Regions from separate parts of the Homo sapiens genome. Here region 1 is linked to region 2. The links come from fine-mapping of genetic effects on gene expression. A gene starts in region 2. The other region holds a variant in brackets. All regions are shown on one strand. Distances are from middle to middle. Region 1 overlaps PSMD13 (proteasome 26S subunit, non-ATPase 13). Region 2 holds the start of NLRP6 (NLR family pyrin domain containing 6).

Evidence for each region. PIP is the estimated chance that this variant, and not a neighbour inherited with it, causes the effect.
Region 1: its variant is fine-mapped to the expression of NLRP6 in CD4 T cells (BLUEPRINT, PIP 0.95).

The regions. Positions count from the first base shown.
Region 1 is chr11:251,836-263,087 of GRCh38, forward strand. It overlaps PSMD13 (proteasome 26S subunit, non-ATPase 13), which reads left to right. Exons shown (of 13, transcript NM_002817.4): 12 at 1-101; 13 at 670-1,149. The coding sequence ends at 765. It also overlaps the pseudogene COX8BP. Among named protein-coding and RNA genes, the nearest start is that of PSMD13, 20 kb to the left of the region's middle. RefSeq lists an enhancer at 5,733-6,233 and a silencer at 6,450-6,529. The variant TGGACGGAC/T (reference allele first, on the strand shown) is at 4,376.
Region 2 is chr11:272,171-283,422 of GRCh38, forward strand. NLRP6 (NLR family pyrin domain containing 6) reads left to right here and starts at 6,237. Exons shown (of 8, transcript NM_001276700.2): 1 at 6,237-6,428; 2 at 7,157-7,437; 3 at 7,664-7,702; 4 at 7,914-9,669; 5 at 10,535-10,627. The coding sequence starts at 6,400. RefSeq lists enhancers at 7,537-8,087, 8,168-8,237 and a silencer at 9,191-9,280.

The sequences.
Region 1 (11,252 bases), 20 kb before region 2:
TGAAGGCCCTTTCGGTGGGGCTGGTGAAAGGCAGTATAGACGAGGTGGACAAACGAGTCCACATGACCTGGGTGCAGCCCCGAGTGTTGGATTTGCAACAGGTGATGTGTTTGAAACCCATTATTCACCTCTGTGGATTTTGAGGGGTTGTGTCTATACCGTCTTAGTTTCATTTGGATGGAAGCCATTTGGGAAGACAGCATTATTAGACAAGAGGTTTTGGAGAAGGAAATACTGCTGTTGGGTTTTTCTAAGAGCCTAATTTAATGCAAGCCTAGGGTTTGAACCCTGCATTTAAAAGCTTATGATGACAATGGCACTGGTTGTGCTGACGGTGCCTTTTAATCTTAAGATAGGAGCTCTGATCAGATACGTTCCTGGTTCTGTGATTTGAGCTCACGTCGCTCTTACATTTGCTGGAAATGCGATCCTGTGGATTTCCTCTGTCCTTGTCTGCTTTCTTTCATGCAAGTTTTTTCTAACGTTCCTGTGAAAAGAATTAACCCGGCAAGTCCCGTCCCACTCCCCCAGCTCAGAGGTCCTTTTTACTAGAGCTGCCCTAGAGAGTTAGCTGGAGATGTAGAGTCACCCCATCAGGTGCTGTGCCGGCCGCTCGGCCTGTGTCTCCTGCGTGTCTTAACGTCCCTTGTGTCCGGATTTCCATTTCAGATCAAGGGAATGAAGGACCGCCTGGAGTTCTGGTGCACGGATGTGAAGAGCATGGAGATGCTGGTGGAGCACCAGGCCCATGACATCCTCACCTAGGGCCCCCTGGTTCCCCGTCGTGTCTCCTTTGACTCACCTGAGAGAGGCGTTTGCAGCCAATGAAGCTGGCTGCTCAGACGGTCGACATTGAATTTGGGTGGGGGTTGGGATCCTGTCTGAAGTACAGACTGTTCTTGCTCTAAAAACAGGACTGTCCCTGATGGGAGCCAGGCCACAGGGAGGAGGCTTCTTTGTGGGTCTCTCCTGCAGAGGGTGGGGGTCTCAGGGTCTTAGGTGATACGGGAGAGAAAGAACGTGCCAGGCAGGAGGCCCCCTGAAGTCTGTGTACTCCGAGGTGGATCTCCATCCCCATCCACCTGTACGGACATCTTTTCCGTTGCGGTTTGAGAATGTTCCTATAATAAACCCCTCTGCTTTGTTCTTCTTGTGGCTCTGTTTTCTTGGGCTTAGCTTCCAGGCCAAGCCTGTGCCTGGAGGTTAAAAAGCATGAGTTGGAACCTTGGGAAGACACGGTGGGGGTAGCCTTGGCCCTTCTCCTCCCTGCACATACAGTAGACGGGCAGAATCCAGCACCAAGGACTAACGAAGACGCTGGTCCTATCTTTATTGTTAGTCAAGAGAGACCTAGGGGTATCCACTCCCTTCTCCAGCCCTCTCAGGTACCTGCCCCGACACAGGCATCCATCCACATCCTTGTCACCACTCATCATTCAAATAGCCACCAGCATCTGTGACCTGGTGTGCCCCAGTGCGGACATGAGCCATCCCTGGGACTGGGCATGTAAAGGAAACCACCTTGAGGTTCCCCGTCTGGGAGTGGAGGTGCACGTACACAAAGAATCACAGAGTGAACATTAGGTGGAAGGACAGTTTAATGTGATCTTTCAGTCCTGGGCCTGCAGTGACAGCATGGAGCTCTTGCAGCTCTCCAGGTCGGGTGAGACCCAGCCTCCAGGAACCAGGAAGCTGATGAATGTGAGAGCCCCACGGCCTGCTCCTGTTGGAGGAAAGCACCCACAAGTCTGCTAGGCTGGCAAAGAACAGTTGTCCGGCATCTTCTCCAGCCTTTTCCTCTTTGGTTGCTGGTGTCTGAGCTCCTGGTTTTTTCCACCTCGTCCAGGCCTCGCCTGACCTCATGGCCCCAGACCCCTCTCGGTCTTTCCACCCACCCTCTCCAGACCTCGTTTGGCCCTGGTCCAGATGGCCTGACACCCCAGCTGTTCCTCGTCAGTCACAATTGCTGGGATCTATTGACCACTAGCCTTTATACCCACCTCACTGTCAAGTTCCCAAGGCCCTGTGGTGCACCCTTCAACCTTCCGCAGCCCCTCTCAGCTGCTCAGGCCAAATGTCTTAGTGTGAGCCTCCATTTCCCTCAGACACTCATGTGTACATCGAGCCCGCTGACTCCCCACCCTCCCTAAGTCCAGCCTCAAACCTGTCCTCCATAACCGCTCCTCCACACAGCAGCCCAGACAGTCTTCCAGAACAATCAGGTCTTGTTGCTGCCGCTGCTCAGCATCCTCCAACAGGCTTCACTCACCCCCAAGGCCTGAGTGCTCTGACCACTGCCTGCCTTGCTGGTCCTGCTCCTACCCTCATCTGCTCTCCCTGCACCCCACCAAGGCTCCTGCCTCATCCCAGACATGAGCTGATCACAGCCCAGAGAGACACAATTCTGCATGCTGAAATCCCGAAAAATCAAAATTCTGAAAATATATTTCTGGAAAAAATAATTTTAAAATTATTTAAAAGATATTTATTTACTTTTTTTTCATTTTTTTATTTTTGAGACGGAGTTTCACTCTTGTTGCCCAGGCTGGAGTGCAATGGCACCATCTCCGCTCACTGCAACCTCTACCTCCTGGGTTCAAACAATTCTGCCTCAGCCCTCTGAGTAGCTGGGATTACAGGCGCCTGCCACCACACCTGGCTAATTTTGTATTTTTAGTAGAGATGGGGTTTCTCCATGTTGGTCAGGCTGGTCTCAAACTCCTGACCTCAGGTGATCCGCCCGCCTCAGCCTCCCAAAGTGCTGGGGTTACAGGCATGAGCCACCACGCCTGGCCATCTATTTACATTTTTAAAGGGGATTTATTTGAGAAACATAAAAACATGACATATGACAGAACACATCATAGGCCACTTCACACAATAAAATAGACAATAATAATATCCATGTTTCTGCAAGTGTAAACAGTCATACCAATGACAGTTATGCACAGATGAGCTGTATTCGTAAAGAAATGTGTTGAGAGGGGAAATGCATGAACACCTACCGCTCGGGTGGGAATTGCGTGCGCCCAGGTTCATAACTGCAGTCTTCCGAAAAGCCAGGATGAACAACCTACGCCTTCTAACAGGCTCAATCTAGAACCGCAACAGTTCACCACCACATAGCCAGTCACCAAAAAAACCAAGATCTAGAGAAATTTTTCACAAATGCAGATGTACAAAAAGGACATCTCTTCATTTATTGAGGAAATATCCCATTTTTACCTACACACACAGACAACATTGTGGTAATGCACTTCTGTGGAGTCAGTTTTGCAAAAAATGCCTAAAACAAATTAGAACACTGTATAAGTGTTCTAATTTATATCTTCAGTATTGAAATGATGCAAGGATAAAATGAGAGCATAGTGAACTGTAAAAAAATAATGCTGACAATTTATGATGATGAAAAAAGCTAAAAAAACTATACAGAAAATTCAACTTGAAAAAGCCATATATGTCGAATTTTCTGTGTAAGTCATATTACAGTAGATTATGGGCAACTATGCAGAGATATTCTGTAAGAGCTGGCAAACTTCCACGACCCCATTAACTATATTCTGAAGTCTTGCATCACAATGAATAGCTGTTTTTTTTTTCTTTTAGGACATGGCTTTCCTTGGAGAATACATTCAAATTCATTTTCTAAGTGGCGCTACTTTTTAAAAATTTCTATGATTCCTGTGATTGTGATTTTTGGAATTTTAAATATTAGAGATTTTACACTTTAGATATTTTGATCTTTCAGGATTTCAAGACTCAGGAGTGTGTCTTTCAGGATTATAATCCAAACACATCCCAGACACAGGGCACTCCCACCCTTCACTGGCGCCTTTGTCTGGACAGCCTTTCCCTCAGGTTTTTACTTGTTTCTTTAGATCATTTAGGCTTTGCTCAAATGACATCTCCTTAGATATATCTTGTTTACTCTCTGTTTTTGAAGCTGGAATGTAAGTCCCATGAGGGCAGAGACTCCGTTGTGTTCACCACTGAATCTTTGGAGCCTGGAGCAGTGTCTGGTTTAGCAGACTTTTTCAGTCAATGTTACATGGATGGATGGACAGATGGGCATATGGATATATGGATGGATGAATGGATGGGTGGATGGGTGAGTGGATGGACAACAGATGAGTGGATGGATGCATGGATGCATGGATGGATGGATGGATGGATGGATGGATGGATGGATGGATGGATGGTGGGTGGATGGATGAGTTTATGAATAGGTGGACGGACAGATGCACGGATGGATGGATGGATGGGCAGATGGGTGGGTGGGAGGAGTGGATGGGTGGATGGATGCAGGGATCCATAATGGATGGATGTGTGGATGGGTGGATGGATAGATGAGTGGATAAGTGGATGGATAGATGCA[TGGACGGAC/T]GGACGGACGGACGGACGGACGGACGGACGGACGGACGGATGGATGGATACATGGGTCGGTGGGTGGATGGATGAGTCAATGGGTGGATGAGTGGATGGGTGGATGGATGGATGGGTGGGTGGATGGATGGGTGGGTAGGTGGGTGGGTGGATGGATGATTGGAGGAGTTGTTATAAGGATGGATGGAGTTTCTATTGTATGCTGGGCACTGGGCTAGATTTGAAGGATACAAAGCCAAGTCAGACATGAGAGACAACTGTGGGGATTACACTTCTCCTTCAGAATGACCCACAGTATTATCACTGACAATGAAAAAGGCCACAGCTGAGTCCAAGCCCAGGAGCCAGTAGAAGCAGTAGGACATCTGACCCCACCTAGGCCCCCAGATTTATCCATGGTCATTGTCTGTACCTCCAGGCTTGGCTGTGGTCATCACCCTCACTATGGACAATCACGCCCCTATCTGTTTGTTTTGAAATGGTAAATTGGTGATACGAGCAAATTTCACTAGGAACATGATTTTACTTTTGTTCTTCCCCAGAAACCACATTTGTCCTAAATGTGAGACTACTTCCTAGGCTTTCCACCCCACCTTCCGGGTCCCTGGCCAGTCTTCATCTGACTTGGTTTCTCAAGCAGGAGCCAAGTCCTGTGAGGCCAGAGGAAGAAGGGTGTCCTGAATGTTATCTCCAGCAGTGCTGGGCTCCTGATACCAGCCTCAGGCAGTGGGGGGCTCTGCCCCTCCTCTGTAATAATCCCTTCCGCCTGAACCTTTAATTATAGCTTTGGGGTCCAGTTCTGGATAAGGCTGTGGACCTGAGTGCGTGTTCAAAGGATCAGTCTCCCAGGCTATGGTGTTTTGTCTTTTACAGATAAGAACTAGCTGCACCACCACCCAGGCTTGCCCCCGAGGGAGGCCTCCACCTCTGCCCTTTTTGGGCTTCAGTGGAGTGGGGGGTGCAGGTGGCGTGTGTGGGTGGGCAGTGGAGAGGCCCACTGTGCTTCAGGACGTTAGGCTTCCAAACAAGCCCCCAGCCAGCCCAGCCTTGGGTGGGTGATGCCCCCGATGAAGGCTGAGAGGAGGGAGCTGGCAGGGGTGGGAGCAGCGATGCCAGGAGGAAACACTGCCCTCCAGGAGAGAGAGGTTTTGTCGGCCTCCCTCAAGCCCAGATGGCCACGCCGTCCACAGCCTTCAACCTCTTCCCACCTGCCCACTCACCGGTCTTCCGACCTTTCTGACCTTTCCAAGCACAAACCTGTCCTCCTCACTTCACACTCACGCAGCTTCTACTTCTGGGGCCCCACAAAAGCAGAAGTGAGCTTTGGTCTTTATCCTAGCCTTGTTTTTAGTCCCCAGTTTGAACCACTTGTTCAAACCAAACCCTGTGGTTAAAGATCCTGAGTCCCCCACCCACAGCAAGGCTGCCCCAGATGGCCTCTCCTGTCATCATCCTGAGGCCTGGACCCTCTTCCCCGCCACCCCCAGGTCTGCCCTTTAATAGAAAGAAAATGATGTGACCCAGAGAGAAAGAGAAGGTGGCCAAGTGGGGCTGCAGGATGGAGATTAAGGCCCCACGTAACAGCTGGGGAAACTGAGACTTGAAGAGCATTCAGGGTTGCAGGCTCAGGGTTCCAGACTCATCCTGGCCCATCCTGGCTCATCCTGGCTCATCTTGGCTCATCCTGGCCCATCCTGGCCCATCCTGGCCCATCCTGGCTCATCCTGGCCCATCCTGGCTCATCTTGGCTCATCCTGGCCCGTCCTGGCTCATCCTGGCTCGTCCTGGCCCATCCTGGCTCATCTTGGCTCATCCTGGCCCGTCCTGGCCCATCCTGGCTCATCCTGGACAGGGGCAGCATCGGAAGGTGCGCTCAAGGCCGTGGATGGACAAAAGTAGTCCTGTTACCTGAATCTTCACCCTCACCTTCTTCAGCCACTCAGCACATACCTATCAAGCTTGCCCTGGACATACCCCTAACGCACCTGGGAGGCGGGAGGGAGACCAGCCACCACGCACACCCTCTCTCACAAAGCTGCAAGGCCACCTCGGCCTGCAGGACCACCTGGAAAGTCCGGTGGACACCTGTGGGCACATGGCACCACCCTGTGTCCAGACTTGGAACCACAGAAGCTGCTGGAGGAGGCACAGACGGGGGCACAGCCCTCTTCCATGGAGCTCTTCGAATCAGAGACCCAGAAAGAGCACACATGCATGAAAACATTTGCATGCTCCTTTTTTATTGCATTAGAAACCTATTTCTTCACGTAAAATAGTGGTTCTTAAAGTGTGGTTCCTGGACCAACAGCATCAGCATCACCTGGCTTGTTGGAAACGAATCGGAAAGTGGAGTGGGCCTATAATCTGTTACAACAACCCCCCAGGTGAGTATGATACACAGCCAAGTTTGAGAACCAGCCGGTCGCGGTGGCTCACACCTGTAATCTCAGCACTTTGGGAGGCCAAGGTAGGTGGATCACCTGAGGTCAGGAGTTCAAGACCATCCTGGACAACGTGGCAAAACCCCGTCTCTACTAAAAATACAAAAATTTGCTGGGCATGGTGGCAAACGCCTGTAGTCCTAGCTACTCGGGAGGCTGAGACAGGAGAATTGCTTGAACCCGGGAGGCGGAGATTGCAGTGAGCTGAGATTGTGCCATTGCACTCCAGCCTGTGCGACAGAGCAAGACTCCATCTCAAAAAAAAAAAAAAGCTTGAATACCATCTTCATGTCACATAAAAACTTTGATACTTCACACTATTTTCTTCAAAACTGAATGACCACTTCCAAAAAATTAAGCCAGATACTAAGACTTGGCCCCTTCCTTTCATCTAAAAAAACACATTTCCACTAAGTACCTTGTAGATTTAGTAGAATTTACTGAAACTTTGGGATTCATGGGAAGAGATCCTGTGGAGGGTGTGGCCCTCTGCCCTCCACCCCACCCCTGTGCACACCCCTCGTCGGGAACTCAGCTTTGACCCAAGCCCTCTTCACATGGAACCTGCCCGTTCGGGACTCTGGTGTCAGTCGACAGTCTCAGCATTGCCCAGCGCTGACGGTTTCGATGGTGCTGTGTGTCAGCTTGACTGGGCCGTGGTGCCCACGTTTGGTCAAACATTATTCTGGATATTTCTGCAAAGGTGTTTTTTGGATGAAATACTAACCTTTAAATTGGTGAACTTTGAGAAACGCAGAAGACCCTCCATGATGTGGTGGGCTTCATCCAATCAGTTGAAGATCTTAGGAGAACAAAGACGGACCTCTCCTGAGGAGGAAGAAGGAATTCCACCTCCAGATGGTCCTCGGGCTCCGCCACAGCATCAGCTTTCCTCGGGGCCTCCAGCCACCTGGGCTCCTCTATCAGATTCCGGGCTTACCAAGCCTCTACAATCACATAAACAGTTCCTCAAAATAGATCTCTCTCCACATATATGTGTGTTGGGGATGGGTGGGTACACACACACACGCACGCGCACACACACACACGCACGCACACACATCCTGTTGGTTCTGTTTCTCTGGAGAATGCTAATACAATATGTATAATACATTTGTCACAATTAATGAACCAATATTGATACATTAGTTACGAACTTCATGAAGTCCATACTCGATTCGGATTTCCTCACACTTTCCCTCATTTCCTGTTCCAGGATCAACACCATTTTACATTCAGTCTCCACATCTCCTGAGCTCCTGTCTGCTGGGGCGGCTCCTCATTCTCCTTGTTTTTCGGTGACCTTGAAGGTAACTGGTCAGGTTTATTGTAGAACACCCCACCCTTCTATTGAGGTTCGGCTGCTGCTTTTCTCATGATTAGATTAGGGCTCTGGGGCTTGAGAAGGAGGACCACAGAGGGACAGCGCCCTTCTCATCACATCATACCAAGAACTTCTCACTCCTGATGTTGGCCTCGGCCACCTGGGTGAGACCGTCTGTCAGCTTTCCTCATTGCAAAGTGACTCTTTTCACTCCCCTTCCCATACTGTTCCCTTTGGGAGGAAGTCACTATGCACAGCCCCACCTAAGGATGGCCAGTCACACTCCACCTCTTTGGGGGTGGGGTCTCTACAGGCTTTATTTGTCATTCTTTTGCATTAAAGGCTTGTCTCTTTTCCCCACTTATTATTACTGATTCATTTATTTATATCAGTATGGACTCAAGCGTATTTATTTTATATTTAGGTTATAATTAACACTGGTTAATTTTGTTGCTCAGATTGTCCCAGCTCTGGGTATTGGGTTCCTTTCTTTCAGCCCTGTGTTCCTTTAGCATATCCTCAAAATTGTGGAGCTTTTTAATTTGCTTGTTTTGAACACTTTCTTAGTTTCTGGTACCACAAAATGCTCCAGACTCATATATTTTCTGCCCCTGTCCTGGAATAAGTGAACATAGAATAAGCCAATAGGCCTGGTTCCTTCTGCTGGAGAATGGTATTAGAAACCAAGATCTGGGCTGGGCATGGTGGCTCACACCTGTAATCCCAGCACTTTGGAAGGCTGAGGCAAGTGGATCACTTGAGGCCAGGAGTCTGAGACCTGCCTCAGCAACATAGTGAGACTGAGACCCTGCCTCTACAAAAAATTTAAAAATTAGCCAGGCATGGTGGCTCCTAGTCCTATATAGAGCGCCTATAGTCCTAGCTACTTGGGAGGCTGAGATGGAAGGAGTGCTTGAGCCCAGGAGTTCAAAGCTGCAGTGAGCCATAATCATGCCAGTGCACTCTAGCCTGGGTGACACAGTGAGATCCTCTCTCAAAAAATAAAAAATAAAAGCATTAACTTATGTTAAAGAAAAAAAAAAGAAACAAGAAGAGAGAAAGAAAGCAAGAAGAGAGAAAGAAAGCAAGAAAGAAGAAAGAGAAAGAAGAAAGAAAAAGAGAAAGAAAAGAAAGAAAGAAAAAGAAAGAGAGAAAAGAAAAAAAAAGAAAAGGAAGGAAGCAAGGAAGGGAGAGAGAAAGAAAAAAAAGAAAAGAGTCCAAGAGCCGGACACTAGGTAGCTACATGACACTATACACCTGTCAAGATTCATGGAGGGCCAAGCACAGTAGCTCATGCCTGTCATCCCAGCACTTTGGGAGGCCAGGGCAGGACTGCTTAAGCCCAGGAGTTAGAGACCAGCCTGGGTAACATAGTGAGACCCCTGTCTCCACAAAAAATAAAAACATTAGCCAGGCATGGTGGTGCACACGTGTGGTCCCAGCTACTCAGGAAGCTGAGGTGGGAGGATGGCTTGAGCCTGGAGGCCGAAGCTGCAGTGAGACATTATTGGGCCACTGCACTCCAACCTGGACAACAGAGCAAGATCCTCTCTCAAAATAATAAAAATTAAAAATTCATAGAGCTTTATAGTACAAAGAGTAAACATTAATGTATGCAAATGTTAAAATATCATTTAGAATATCAGGGAATCCCATGATGGAATGCAGCATGTGACAAAATAATCTAACTGTGTTACAAATGCAGAAACAACCTCACTGAAGGGAATGATGAGAAAGGCACTGACTTGGTAACTTTGGAAATGAGTGAAGTCTGTTAAGACTAAGAGCAAAGGAAGTACACATAAGCACAGTACTCTAGCTGATAAAGTAGTTTCCCACACGGCAGATGTGGGGGTGTGTGTGTGTATGTGTGTGCATGCGTACCATGCAAATTAGCAAAATACAACACATTGGAGGCCAGGTGCAGTGGTTCATGTCTGTAATCCCAGCACTTTGAGAGGCCAAGGCAGGCAGATCACCTGAGGTCGGAGTTCGAGATCAGCCTGACCAACATGGAGAAACCCCATCTCTACTAAAAATACAAAAAATTAGTCAGGCGTGGAGGTGCATGCCTGTAATTCCAGCTACTCGGGAGGCTGAGGCAGGAGAATCACTTGAACCCGGGAGGCGGAGGTTGCGGTGAGCAGAGATTGTGCCACTGCACTCCAGCCTGGGCAACAAGAGCGAAACTCCACCTCAAAAAAAAAAACACACACACACACACACACAATGGAAAATATGCATGAGTAACGTAGCAGAGATTGCTAGCTGATCTCCAAAATTTCTGTTCCTGTCTTCCTGGACAAATAGCTAGACTGCATGTCCTATCCTTTCCTGCTGTCAGGGTCGGCCATGTGACTGTGGCTATGAGTGACATGCACAACCTCCTGATCAGGCCATGACAAGCCTTCCTCCAACCCAGGCATCAGGCTGTTCCCTCGAGCACTGACCATGGAGGCCTTCCTCCAACCCAGGCATCAGGCTGTTTCCTAGAGCACTCTTTATAAGAGGAGGGAAATGAAACTGATCCAATTTTCATCAATAGGGCACTGATTAATAACTTGTGGTACACCTCAACCACAGGCAACTATGATGAAGACAAAAATAGTGAAGTATATTTATATACACCAACATGGAAAGGTGTCCGAAACATACCAGTTATTAAACAAATAAAGCAAATTAAAAAGCAGCAGATTTGTCAGGATGTGGTGGCTCACGCCTGTAATCCCAGCACTTTGGGAGGCCGAGGCGGGCAGATCACGAGGTCAGGAGATTGAGACCATCCTGGCTAACATGGTGAAACCCCGTCTCTACTAAAAATACAAAAAATTAGCCAGGCGTGGTGGCAGGTGCCTGTAGTCCCAGCTATTTGGGAGGCTGAGGCAGGAGAATGGTGTGAACCCGGGAGGCAGAGCTTGCTGTGAGCCCAGATCACGCCACTGCACTCCAGCCTGGGCGACAGAGCGAAACTCTACCTCATTTAAAAAAAAAAAAGTGACAGATTTGTCAGGGAGCGGTAGCTCACGCCTGTAATCCCAGCACTTTGAGAGGCCAAGGCGGGTGGATCACCTGAGGTCGGGAGTTCAAGACCAGCCTGACCAACA
Region 2 (11,252 bases):
TCTTTCTTCGGCTGCTCTAGCAGGTTTCCTGGTACAGTGAGTGCCCAATGGAACGAGCATTTGACCAGCAGCTTCATGGGGGAGGCGCTTTCTCTCTGGGTCTCTGTGGGGAAGGGAAAGACCTTCCTTAAGGAGCACTGGACGCCCAGCACCTGCCTTGGAGGACAGTTTGCTTTCGTGGAAGATTGGGCCACAGAGAGCATTGCTGTGGAAGGAGGCGTCAGAAGTGGGGCCAAGTGCACGTTGCCCTTCCACCTGCGGCCTTGGAGACAGGTCCAAGGTGTACGAGTTACGAAGGCCTTGGGCCGCATGAAACCGAAACCCACAGGAGAGTCGTTCTCCCAGAACAAAGCCCCGAGGTGGCCTCCCAGCTGCCAGAGTCATCTCCTCTGGCTCCTGGGCCTGGGCATTGCTCGTGGACCTCCAAGTTTTGTGTCCATGTCCAAGAGGACAAAGACGGAGGGAGGCCAAGAGCCAACGGCCGTGGCAGCTCCACCCACCACCCAAGCCCACCCAGCAGGCTCCCTTTCCCCTCATTGCCCAGACTGTGTCCCAAGGTCACCTTCTGCAAAGTTTTATGGGGAAGCACTTTGCTGATCCACACACACAGGGTTCTGTCGGTAAGAAGAGGGGAAGATGGACCTCGGGTTGGCAGCAAGCAGGTCCTGCCACTTTTGGTTCCATTTGGGACCCCCAAAGGCTCTGGGGTGAATCGTCCCAGAAGGAGAGGTTGATGAGTTGATGAGGCGGGGTCTTCGGCGCCGCCCCCAAGAGGAGCGCAGAGGAGAGAGAGGGCTAGCATCGAGGAGAGAGGTGTGGGGGGTCAGAATGTTGGGGGCCCAGGGGAGAAGGACAGAGGAAGCGGATGACAGTGTAGTACCAAAGGGCTGTCGATGAGTGACAGGAACAGAGGGGGAATTTTCAGCTGCTGTCCGGAGTGTAGGACTCTGTGCAGAAGGGTACAAGCCTAAAGGGTTTCTTCAAGGAAAACTGTGCTCTGTGACATGGGTAGACCCTGGTACTGTCCCTTTGCGGAAGCGGAACACAGATCGCCATTGTCTTTTGAACCGAACTGAAGATTTCTGGAAGCAGCTGTGGCCCCTGGGTCATGAGGCTGTTTAGATTTATATGGGTTCCATTGAGGATTCTCAGGGATTTTGGACCTAAATTTGGTAACTGTTGCACCTCGAACTGAAATATCATCCCACCATTGAGCAGAAGGACAGCATCCCTAGCCTGGGCAACATAGGGAGACCTTGTCTCTAAATAAATAAATAAAAATTAACCAGATGTGTTGATGCATGCCTATAGTTCTAGCTACTTGGAAGGCTGAGTGGGAAGGATCCCTTGAGCCCAGGAGTTTGAGGTTGCAGTGAGCTAAGATCGCACCACTGCACTCTAGCCTGGGCGACAGAGTAAGACCTTGTCTCTAAAAAAAAAAAAAAGAAAGAAAGAAAAGAAAAAAACAAAGAAAAAAGAAAGAAAGATAATTCTTTGTATATTTTGGATAACAGTCCTTTATCAAATATGTGTTTTGCAAATATTTTATCCCAGTGTGTGGCTTGTCTCCTCATTCTCTTAATACTATCTATTCCAGGGCAGAAGTTGTACATTTTAATGAAGCCCACTTATCAATTGTTTCTTTTATGCACCATGCTTTGGTCTATCTTCTAAAAGTTTTGTTGTTTTGCACTTAACATTTGGGTCTATGATATAATTTGAGTTAAATTTTGTGAAACATTTAAAGTCTGTGTTTAGATTTTTTTATTTGTTTTTCATGAGACTATCCAATTGTTCCAGCATCATTTGTTGAAAAGACTATCCTTTTCCTTTGAATTGGCTTTGCTCCTTTTTCACAGATCACTTGACTATATTTGTGTGTGCCAATTCTGGGCTCTGTATTCTGTTCCACTGATTTATCTGTACAGTCTTTTGCCAATATCACTATGCTGATTGCTGTAGCTTTACAGTAAGTCTTGAACCGAGCAGCGTCAGTCCTCTGACTTTGTTCTTCTTCAGTATCATGTTGGTTATTCTGAGTCTTTTGCATTTCCATATAAATCTTACAGGTTTTTTTTTGTTTTGTTCTGTTTGTTTTGTTTTGTTTTTAGAGGAAGGGTCTTGCTGTCACCCAGGCTGGAGTGCAATAGCATGACCTTGGCCTACAACAGCCTCAATCTCTAGGGCTCAAGCAATTCTCCCACCTCAGCCTCCCAAGTAGCTGGGGTTACAGGCATGCACTGGCACACCCAGTTAAATTTTTATATTTTTGTAGAGATGGGGTCTCATTATATTGTCCAGTCTGGTCTCAAATTCTTGGCCTCAAACCATCCTCCTACCTCAGCCTCCCAAAGTGCTGAGATTACAAATGTGAGCCACCATACAATCAGTTTTTTGATATCTACAAAATAATTTGCTATGGTTTTGATTTTTATTACATTGAATCTGTAGATCGATTTGGGAAGAATTGGCATCCTAATAATATTGAGTCTTCCCATCCATGAACATGGAATATTTATTTAGAGCTTTGATTTCTTTCATCAGAGATTTGCAGTTTATCATGTACATATTTTGTGAGATTTATACCTAAGTCAGGTTTTTGGTGCTAATATAAATGATAATTATGTTTTAATTTTCAAATTCCAGCTGTTCGTTGCTAGGCAAGCAAGTGACTTTTGCTTATTACCCCTGCTACCTGCAACCTTGCTATAATCACTTATTAGTTCCAGGAATGTTTTGTTCTTTGGAATTTTCTACACAGACAATCATGTCCTGTGCAAGCAAAAATAGTTCATTTCTTCCTTCCCAATTTGCATACCCTCTTCTCCTTTTCTGGTCTTATTGCCAAGGCTAAGACTTCCAGCACAATGCTGAATAGGAGTGGTGAGAGGGGGCACCCTTGTCCTGTTCCCAGTCTTAAAGAGAAAGCATTCAGCTTCTCAACATTAAGTATGATATTAGCTGTAGGTTTTTTTGTAGATGTTCTCTATCAAGTTGAGGAAGTTCCACTCTATTCCTGCCTTGCTAGAGTTGTTATCATAAATAGGTGTTGGGTTTTGTCAAATGCTTTTCCTTTATCTATTGATATGATCATGTTTTTTCTTCTTTAGCCCATTGATGTGATGAATTACATTAATTTACATGTGAGTGTTAAACCAGCCTTGAATGTCTGGAGTAAATCCCACTTGGTTGTGATGTATCATTCATTTTACACATGTTAGGTTTGGGTTGCTGACTTTTTGTAGAGGATTTTTATATCTACATTCCTGAGAAATATTAGTGTGTTATTTTTCCTTGCTTGTAATGTCTTTGTCTAGTTTTGGTATTAAGGTATTACAACCTTCATTGAATGAGTTAGGAAGTGTTCCTACTGCCTCTATTTTCTGGAAAAGATTATAGGAAATTGTTATTTCTTCATTATGTTTTCAATATAATTCACCAGTAAAACCATCTGGGTCTAATGCTTTTTGGTTTGGAAGGTCATTAATTGTAGATTCAATGTCTTGTTTTTGTTTTTGTTTTGAGTCAGGATCTGGCTCTGTTGCCTGGGTTGGAGTGCAGTGGCATTATCATAGCTCACTGTAGCTTGAACTCCTGAGCTCAAGCAATCCTCCTGCCTCGGCCTCCTAAAGTGCTTGGATTACAGGTGTGAGGGCAGTGGCTGGAGGCCAAAAGTTTGAGAACAGCCTGGGCAATATAGCAAGACTCAGTCTCTATTTTTTAATAAAAATATTAATTTATATAAAAATACAAAATTTTATTTGTCATCTTTACCATTTTAAGTGTATAGCTCAGTGCTAATAAATATATTTACACATATATTATTTTCTCCTTCATCTCCGTTCCCCTACTCTCTTTCCTGGCCTTTTTTATCTTTTAAAAGACAGAAGTCTTATTACCCTGCCAAAGATGGTCTTGAACTCTAGCAATCCTCCCACTTAAGCCTGTCCTGTAGCTAGGACTATGCCCAGTTTGGTTAAACGTATTTTTAATTCCTCTGACTTGTTTTTTGACCCATGTGTTATTTGCAAGTGTATTGTTTATTCCAAATATTGGGGGATTTTCTGATTGGGAAGCTCCTTCCATTCTTCCCAGTTTGCTTAGTGTTTTTAACCATGAAGAGGTGTTGGAAAATGTAGACTATTCTTTCTGTCTCTATTGAGATGATCAAGCAGTTTTTGTCCTCTTAAGTATTACTATGATATGTTACATTAATTGATTTTTGGATGTTAAACCAACCTTGCACTCCTTAGAGAAAACACACTTAGTCATGGTTTGTAATTGTTTTTATATGCTAATAGATTCTGTTTCTGAAGTAGTTTGTTAAGGATTTTTCATGCCTGTATTCATGAAGGATATTGGTTTACAGTTTTCTTCTGATGAGTTTGCCTGGTTTTGGTATCAGTGTCACAGGCCTCAGAGAATGAGTTGGGAAGCATTCCCTTGAGAGCTTTTCTTTGTGGGAAAGTTTTTTTTCCCTGTAATTAGTAATTCAATCTCTTTACTTGTTATAATTTGTCTTAGTCTATTCTCACATTGCTGTAAAGACATACCTGAGACAGGGTAATTTATAAAGAAAAGAGGTTTAACTAGCTCCTGGTTCTGTGGGCTGTACAGACTTTTGCTTCTGGGGAGGCCTCAGGAAACTTACAATCATGGCAGAAAGCAAAGGGGAAGCAGGCAAATATTCATGTGGCCAAAAGGACAGAGAGAGCAAAGTGGGACATGCTACACACTTTCAAACAACCAGATCTCATGAGAACTTACTCACTATTACAAGAACAGCAAGGACGAAATCCACCTTCATGATCCAATCACCTGCCACCAGGTCTCTCCCCCAACATTGGGAATTACAATTCAACATGAGATTTGGGTGGGGACACACAGCCAAACTGTTATCAGAAAGAGGTCTTGATCCAGACATCATGGTTCTTGGATCTCATGCAAGAAAGAATTTGAGTCAAATCCATAAAGAGTAAAGTGCCAGGCATGGTCGCTCACACCAGTAATCCCAGCACTTTGGGAGGTCCAAGGCAGGCAGATCACAAGGTCAAGAGTTCAAGGCCAGCCTGACCAACATGGTGAAACCCCGTCTCTACTAAAAATACAAAAATTAGCCAGGCATGGTGGTGCATGCCTGTAATTCCAGCTACTCAGGAGGCTGAGGCAGGAGAATTGCTTGAACCCAGGAGGCGGAGTTTGAAGTGAGCCGAGATCGTGCCACTGCACTCCGCCTGGCGACAGAACGAGACTCCATGAAAAAAAAAAAAAAAAAAAAAAGAGTAAAGTGAGAGCAAGTTTATTGAGAAAGTAAAGGAATAAAAGAATGGCTATTCTATAGGCAGAGCAGCCCCAAAGGCTGCTGGTTGCCCATTTTTATGGTTATTTCTTGATTATATGCTAAACGAGGAGTGGATTATTCATGAGTTTTCCAGGAAAGTGGTGGGCAATTCTCAGAACTGAGGGTTCCTCCCCTTTTAGACCATATAGGGTAACTTCCTGACTTTGCCATGGCATTTATAAACTGTCATCGTGTTGGTGGGAGTGTCTTTTAGTGTGCTAATGTACTGTAACTAGAGTAATGAGCTGTGAGGATGACCAGAGGTCACTCTCATTGCCATCTTGGTTCTGGTGGTTTTGGGCCAGCTTCTTTACACCATTATCAGCAAGGCCTTTATGACCTGTATCTTGTGTCAACCTCCTGTCTCATCCTGTGACTTAGAATGTCTACCCTCCTGGGAATGCAGCCCAGTAGGTCTCAGCCTTATTTTACCCAGCACCTCTCATTTCCACATATTAACCCCCCCGTTCCACACACTCTCACATTTGGTCCCAGGGGTCTCGAACACCCCTGACGTCCAGCCTCTGCCCGCCAGCTGTTCAGGTCGGGTGGGGAGGCTGCAGTGCAGACCCCTGCCCGGCGTCTCCCTGGAGACTGCCTTCCCTCCCATATATGGTGCGTGCTGCTGGCTGTCCCCCCTGTTCCCTCTACCTGGAAGTCTTTCCTCACCCCTGCCTTCAGAGTCTAACCTCTCCCCAGGCCTCAGCTGAAGGCCTGGCTCTGAGCCAGCCACCTCCTTCACACAACCCACCTTGCTCTGAAGCTGCCTGCTCACAGCCATGCCCCGATGCCACACCCAGGGGTTCTTGGGGAACATTAATGGGATAAAGGAGTAAGAAAATCAAAGGTCACCAAACGGAGCCCTTAAAGGGCAATGCTCTGCGTGTGCCACGGTGCCCAACAGCATCTCGTGCCAGCTGAGCTGCGGTGTGTGGACCCGGGGAATGGACCGGGCTGGACAACCTCTAAGACTTGGCTCCAGCTCAGCCTGTGAAGGAATCACCTCTCTGATCCCCACCTCTGCCCCGGAGTGCTAGACCCAGGGAGGAAGAGACCCCATGGACCAGCCAGAGGCCCCCTGCTCCAGGTGAGTGCTGGCCCCAGGGTGGTCACTGGGAACCGGCTGGTCTCAGCCCTCTGGGGCCTCCACCTCACCCGCTGACTTCCTCAGGCTCTCCACCCTTGTCCACATCCTTCCCCCACCCTCACTCCCAGGCTCAGGAGCCAAGCACTGCCTCCCCACAGAGGGCATTTGTGGAGTCTGTTCCCCACCAGGGGCTCAGATTCAGGCCCTGGTGCAAGGCCCCAAGCTGGGCCCCACCAAAGTGTGGCAGGGGTGGGGGCCCAGGAATACAGCCTGGGCCTGGCAGTGTCTGCTGCCAAAGAGGCCAGTTCTGCTCCGGGATCGGGAAGAGAGGGAAAAGAAGGAAAGCGAGGAAAGAGAGCTCAGGGTTCCTTGGAAATACCTCCCTCGGGGCATGTGACCTGTCCTGGGGTGTGGAAGGACAGAAGCAGAAAGGGAGGTGCAGGGGAGGAAGGTGCCCCCCAGAGCTCAGATCAGCGGCGGCCAGTGCCCACTTCACCCTCAGAGGGCGAAGAACACCAAGACGCCCCGACCCGGGTCCGGGGACGGGGGAGGGAAAAGTCTGGGGTCACTCCCCGTTGCCCCCTCCCGCCACCCCATGGATCCAGACGATGCTTGGCCCGGGACTCCCTGAGGCCCTGCCCGCGGTGGGTTCTCCGGCGCCAGAGTCGGGGGCGGGCGGGGGTCACCCGAGGGCCGCTCCCCGATGACCCGCGCCCGCCCGCCTCCAGCACGGGGCCGCGCCTCGCGGTGGCCCGCGAGCTGCTCCTGGCTGCGCTGGAGGAACTGAGCCAAGAGCAGCTGAAGCGCTTCCGCCACAAGCTGCGCGACGTGGGCCCGGACGGACGCAGCATCCCGTGGGGGCGGCTGGAGCGCGCGGACGCCGTGGACCTCGCGGAGCAGCTGGCCCAGTTCTACGGCCCGGAGCCTGCCCTGGAGGTGGCCCGCAAGACCCTCAAGAGGGCGGACGCGCGCGACGTGGCGGCGCAGCTCCAGGAGCGGCGGCTGCAGCGTGAGTTCTGCGCGGGAGGTCCCTCCTGTCTGGGCAGAGGCTGGGCTGCCCTCCTTCCCGCTTCCCGGAGAAGCCCCGGCGCGGTCCCCGGCCCCCGCGCGTTTTATCCACAAATTCGCGGGCCCCAGGGGTAGGACCCTGCGTGCTCCTCAGGGTGACTCGGACCCCCGTGGCGCCTTCCCCTGTTCCCGCCCTCGGCGGAACCTCACCCCAGTTTCCCTTCCAGGGCTCGGGCTCGGCTCCGGGACGCTGCTCTCCGTGTCCGGTGGGTCTCTCGCTGGGGGGGCACGAGTGTCCCCAACCCCACTTGGAGGGTCCCGGGGAGGACCGGGGTGGGAGGGCCGCCAGGGGCGTGGGCTGTGGTCCCGTAGAGGAAACTGAGGCCTGAGCAGGGCCGGGGAGGGCGTGGGCTCCCGGAGGGCGCAGCCTGCCCCACCTCCGACCCTTGTCCCCGCGCTGTCTCCCGCTGCGCCCAGAGTACAAGAAGAAGTACCGGGAGCACGTGCTGCAGCTGCACGCTCGGGTGAAGGAGAGGAACGCCCGCTCCGTGAAGATCACCAAGCGCTTCACCAAGCTGCTCATCGCGCCCGAGAGCGCCGCCCCGGAGGAGGCGATGGGGCCCGCGGAAGAGCCTGAGCCGGGGCGCGCGCGGCGCTCGGACACGCACACTTTCAACCGCCTCTTCCGCCGCGACGAGGAGGGCCGGCGGCCGCTGACCGTGGTGCTGCAGGGCCCGGCGGGCATCGGCAAGACCATGGCGGCCAAAAAGATCCTGTACGACTGGGCGGCGGGCAAGCTGTACCAGGGCCAGGTGGACTTCGCCTTCTTCATGCCCTGCGGCGAGCTGCTGGAGAGGCCGGGCACGCGCAGCCTGGCTGACCTGATCCTGGACCAGTGCCCCGACCGCGGCGCGCCGGTGCCGCAGATGCTGGCCCAGCCGCAGCGGCTGCTCTTCATCCTGGACGGCGCGGACGAGCTGCCGGCGCTGGGGGGCCCCGAGGCCGCGCCCTGCACAGACCCCTTCGAGGCGGCGAGCGGCGCGCGGGTGCTAGGCGGGCTGCTGAGCAAGGCGCTGCTGCCCACGGCCCTCCTGCTGGTGACCACGCGCGCCGCCGCCCCCGGGAGGCTGCAGGGCCGCCTGTGTTCCCCGCAGTGCGCCGAGGTGCGCGGCTTCTCCGACAAGGACAAGAAGAAGTATTTCTACAAGTATTTCCGGGATGAGAGGAGGGCCGAGCGCGCCTACCGCTTCGTGAAGGAGAACGAGACGCTGTTCGCGCTGTGCTTCGTGCCCTTCGTGTGCTGGATCGTGTGCACCGTGCTGCGCCAGCAGCTGGAGCTCGGTCGGGACCTGTCGCGCACGTCCAAGACCACCACGTCAGTGTACCTGCTTTTCATCACCAGCGTTCTGAGCTCGGCTCCGGTAGCCGACGGGCCCCGGTTGCAGGGCGACCTGCGCAATCTGTGCCGCCTGGCCCGCGAGGGCGTCCTCGGACGCAGGGCGCAGTTTGCCGAGAAGGAACTGGAGCAACTGGAGCTTCGTGGCTCCAAAGTGCAGACGCTGTTTCTCAGCAAAAAGGAGCTGCCGGGCGTGCTGGAGACAGAGGTCACCTACCAGTTCATCGACCAGAGCTTCCAGGAGTTCCTCGCGGCACTGTCCTACCTGCTGGAGGACGGCGGGGTGCCCAGGACCGCGGCTGGCGGCGTTGGGACACTCCTGCGTGGGGACGCCCAGCCGCACAGCCACTTGGTGCTCACCACGCGCTTCCTCTTCGGACTGCTGAGCGCGGAGCGGATGCGCGACATCGAGCGCCACTTCGGCTGCATGGTTTCAGAGCGTGTGAAGCAGGAGGCCCTGCGGTGGGTGCAGGGACAGGGACAGGGCTGCCCCGGAGTGGCACCAGAGGTGACCGAGGGGGCCAAAGGGCTCGAGGACACCGAAGAGCCAGAGGAGGAGGAGGAGGGAGAGGAGCCCAACTACCCACTGGAGTTGCTGTACTGCCTGTACGAGACGCAGGAGGACGCGTTTGTGCGCCAAGCCCTGTGCCGGTTCCCGGAGCTGGCGCTGCAGCGAGTGCGCTTCTGCCGCATGGACGTGGCTGTTCTGAGCTACTGCGTGAGGTGCTGCCCTGCTGGACAGGCACTGCGGCTGATCAGCTGCAGATTGGTTGCTGCGCAGGAGAAGAAGAAGAAGAGCCTGGGGAAGCGGCTCCAGGCCAGCCTGGGTGGCGGCAGGTGCGTCTCCAGGGCAGAGATACTCTCTTGTGTGTGAGGTGTGTGTGCCGGTGCAAACCTGTGCACCTCAGTGTCCATCTGGCATGGGGCGCACCTCCAGACCAGACCCTGGCTCCCCAGATGGGGAGGCTTTGACCACCTCCTTGCAAGGCAACCACTGAATTCCTATCTTCTTCCCCAGGGTGTCCTCACCATGCCCACCGTCAGCCACCCACAACCTATGAAAACTTCCTAGTATGGCCCTACAGCTCTGGCCCAGCCCTTCTTCCCATTTTACTTTCTGACAATAAGCTCTGGAACACACGATGCCCTCTGTCCAGAGCCTCTGCACTTGCCCTTCCCTCCACCTAGAATATTCTGTTTGCTGCCTGTCCTGCAAGTCTGCCCTGGCTCCCCCAGCTGGCTGGGGACCCAACTGGCTCCAGAAGTACCCTTTCGACCACCCTGCTGTGACATCTGCCCCACACCTCCACCAGACCCTCGGCTCCTCCAGGGCAAGGCTTTTGCCAGAGTTCCTTTGAATATAGCTCCAATTCAGCCCCTGCCCAGGGGCTTGGCATCTGTTGAGAGGATGAATGTCACGGTGTTGGCAGGGGCTGGGCCTGGGGACCCAAAGACCCATGTAGAGGATGTGGGTGATACCGTCCCACTGACCTCACTCAGACACCCCAGTGGGATGATGCCTGGGCCACAGATGAGTGGTTTTGCTCTGGGTTTGGTTGGGGGAGTGTGAAGGGGGTGGCTCAGCAAGGAGGTGAGGAGGAGGGGCAGCTCTGAGACCCCAGGACTACAGATAGACAGGAGTCCTTTCCGGCAGGCACTGTGAGGAGCAGGGTGGGCTTCACCTTCCTCTCTCTCCCAGCAGTTCTCAAGGCACCACAAAACAACTGCCAGCCTCCCTTCTTCATCCACTCTTTCAGGCAATGACTGACCCACTGTGCCATCTGAGCAGCCTCACGTGAGTGGCCACACCCCCAGCTCTTCCCACGGAGCGGGCTGAGAGCAGGATGCCCTGGGCAGAGACGGAAGTATGACCTAGGAAAGAAGGCTGAGGGGTCAGACCAGAGCCTGAGGCCTGTGGGTGCTGGAGATGGCAGGCTCTGCCCACACAGAGCAGAGGGAGGAGGGGATGAGGGTCTGGGGCTTCATTACCAGGTTAGGTACTGGTAGGAAAAGGTTGGTCCTGGTGAGTGGAAAGCAGCTAAGCACACTGAGGGAGGGATTAAAGAAGACAAGAGTGTATTTTCCTTCTGAAGGGAGGCTGCCGTTGGAAACTGCTGGGTTCTCAGAAGCAGTGGAGGAAGGTGTTCAAGCGCAGGCTCCAAGGTCAGGCTGTCTGCAAATGCTAGCCGGCTTCTGCGTGCCCAGTAGCAAGTCCATCTGTCCGAGCTTCCATTTCCTCCCCTGTGAAATGGAGCCAGTAGATCCAGAGAGTTGGGGTGAGATTTAATGTGGCTACACATGTACAGTTCTTTTTTTTTTTTTTTTTTTTGAGACGGAGCCTCGCTCTGTCGCCCAGGCTGGAGTGCAGTGGTGTGATCTCAGCTCACTGCAAGCTCCGCCTCCCGGGTTCACGCCATTCT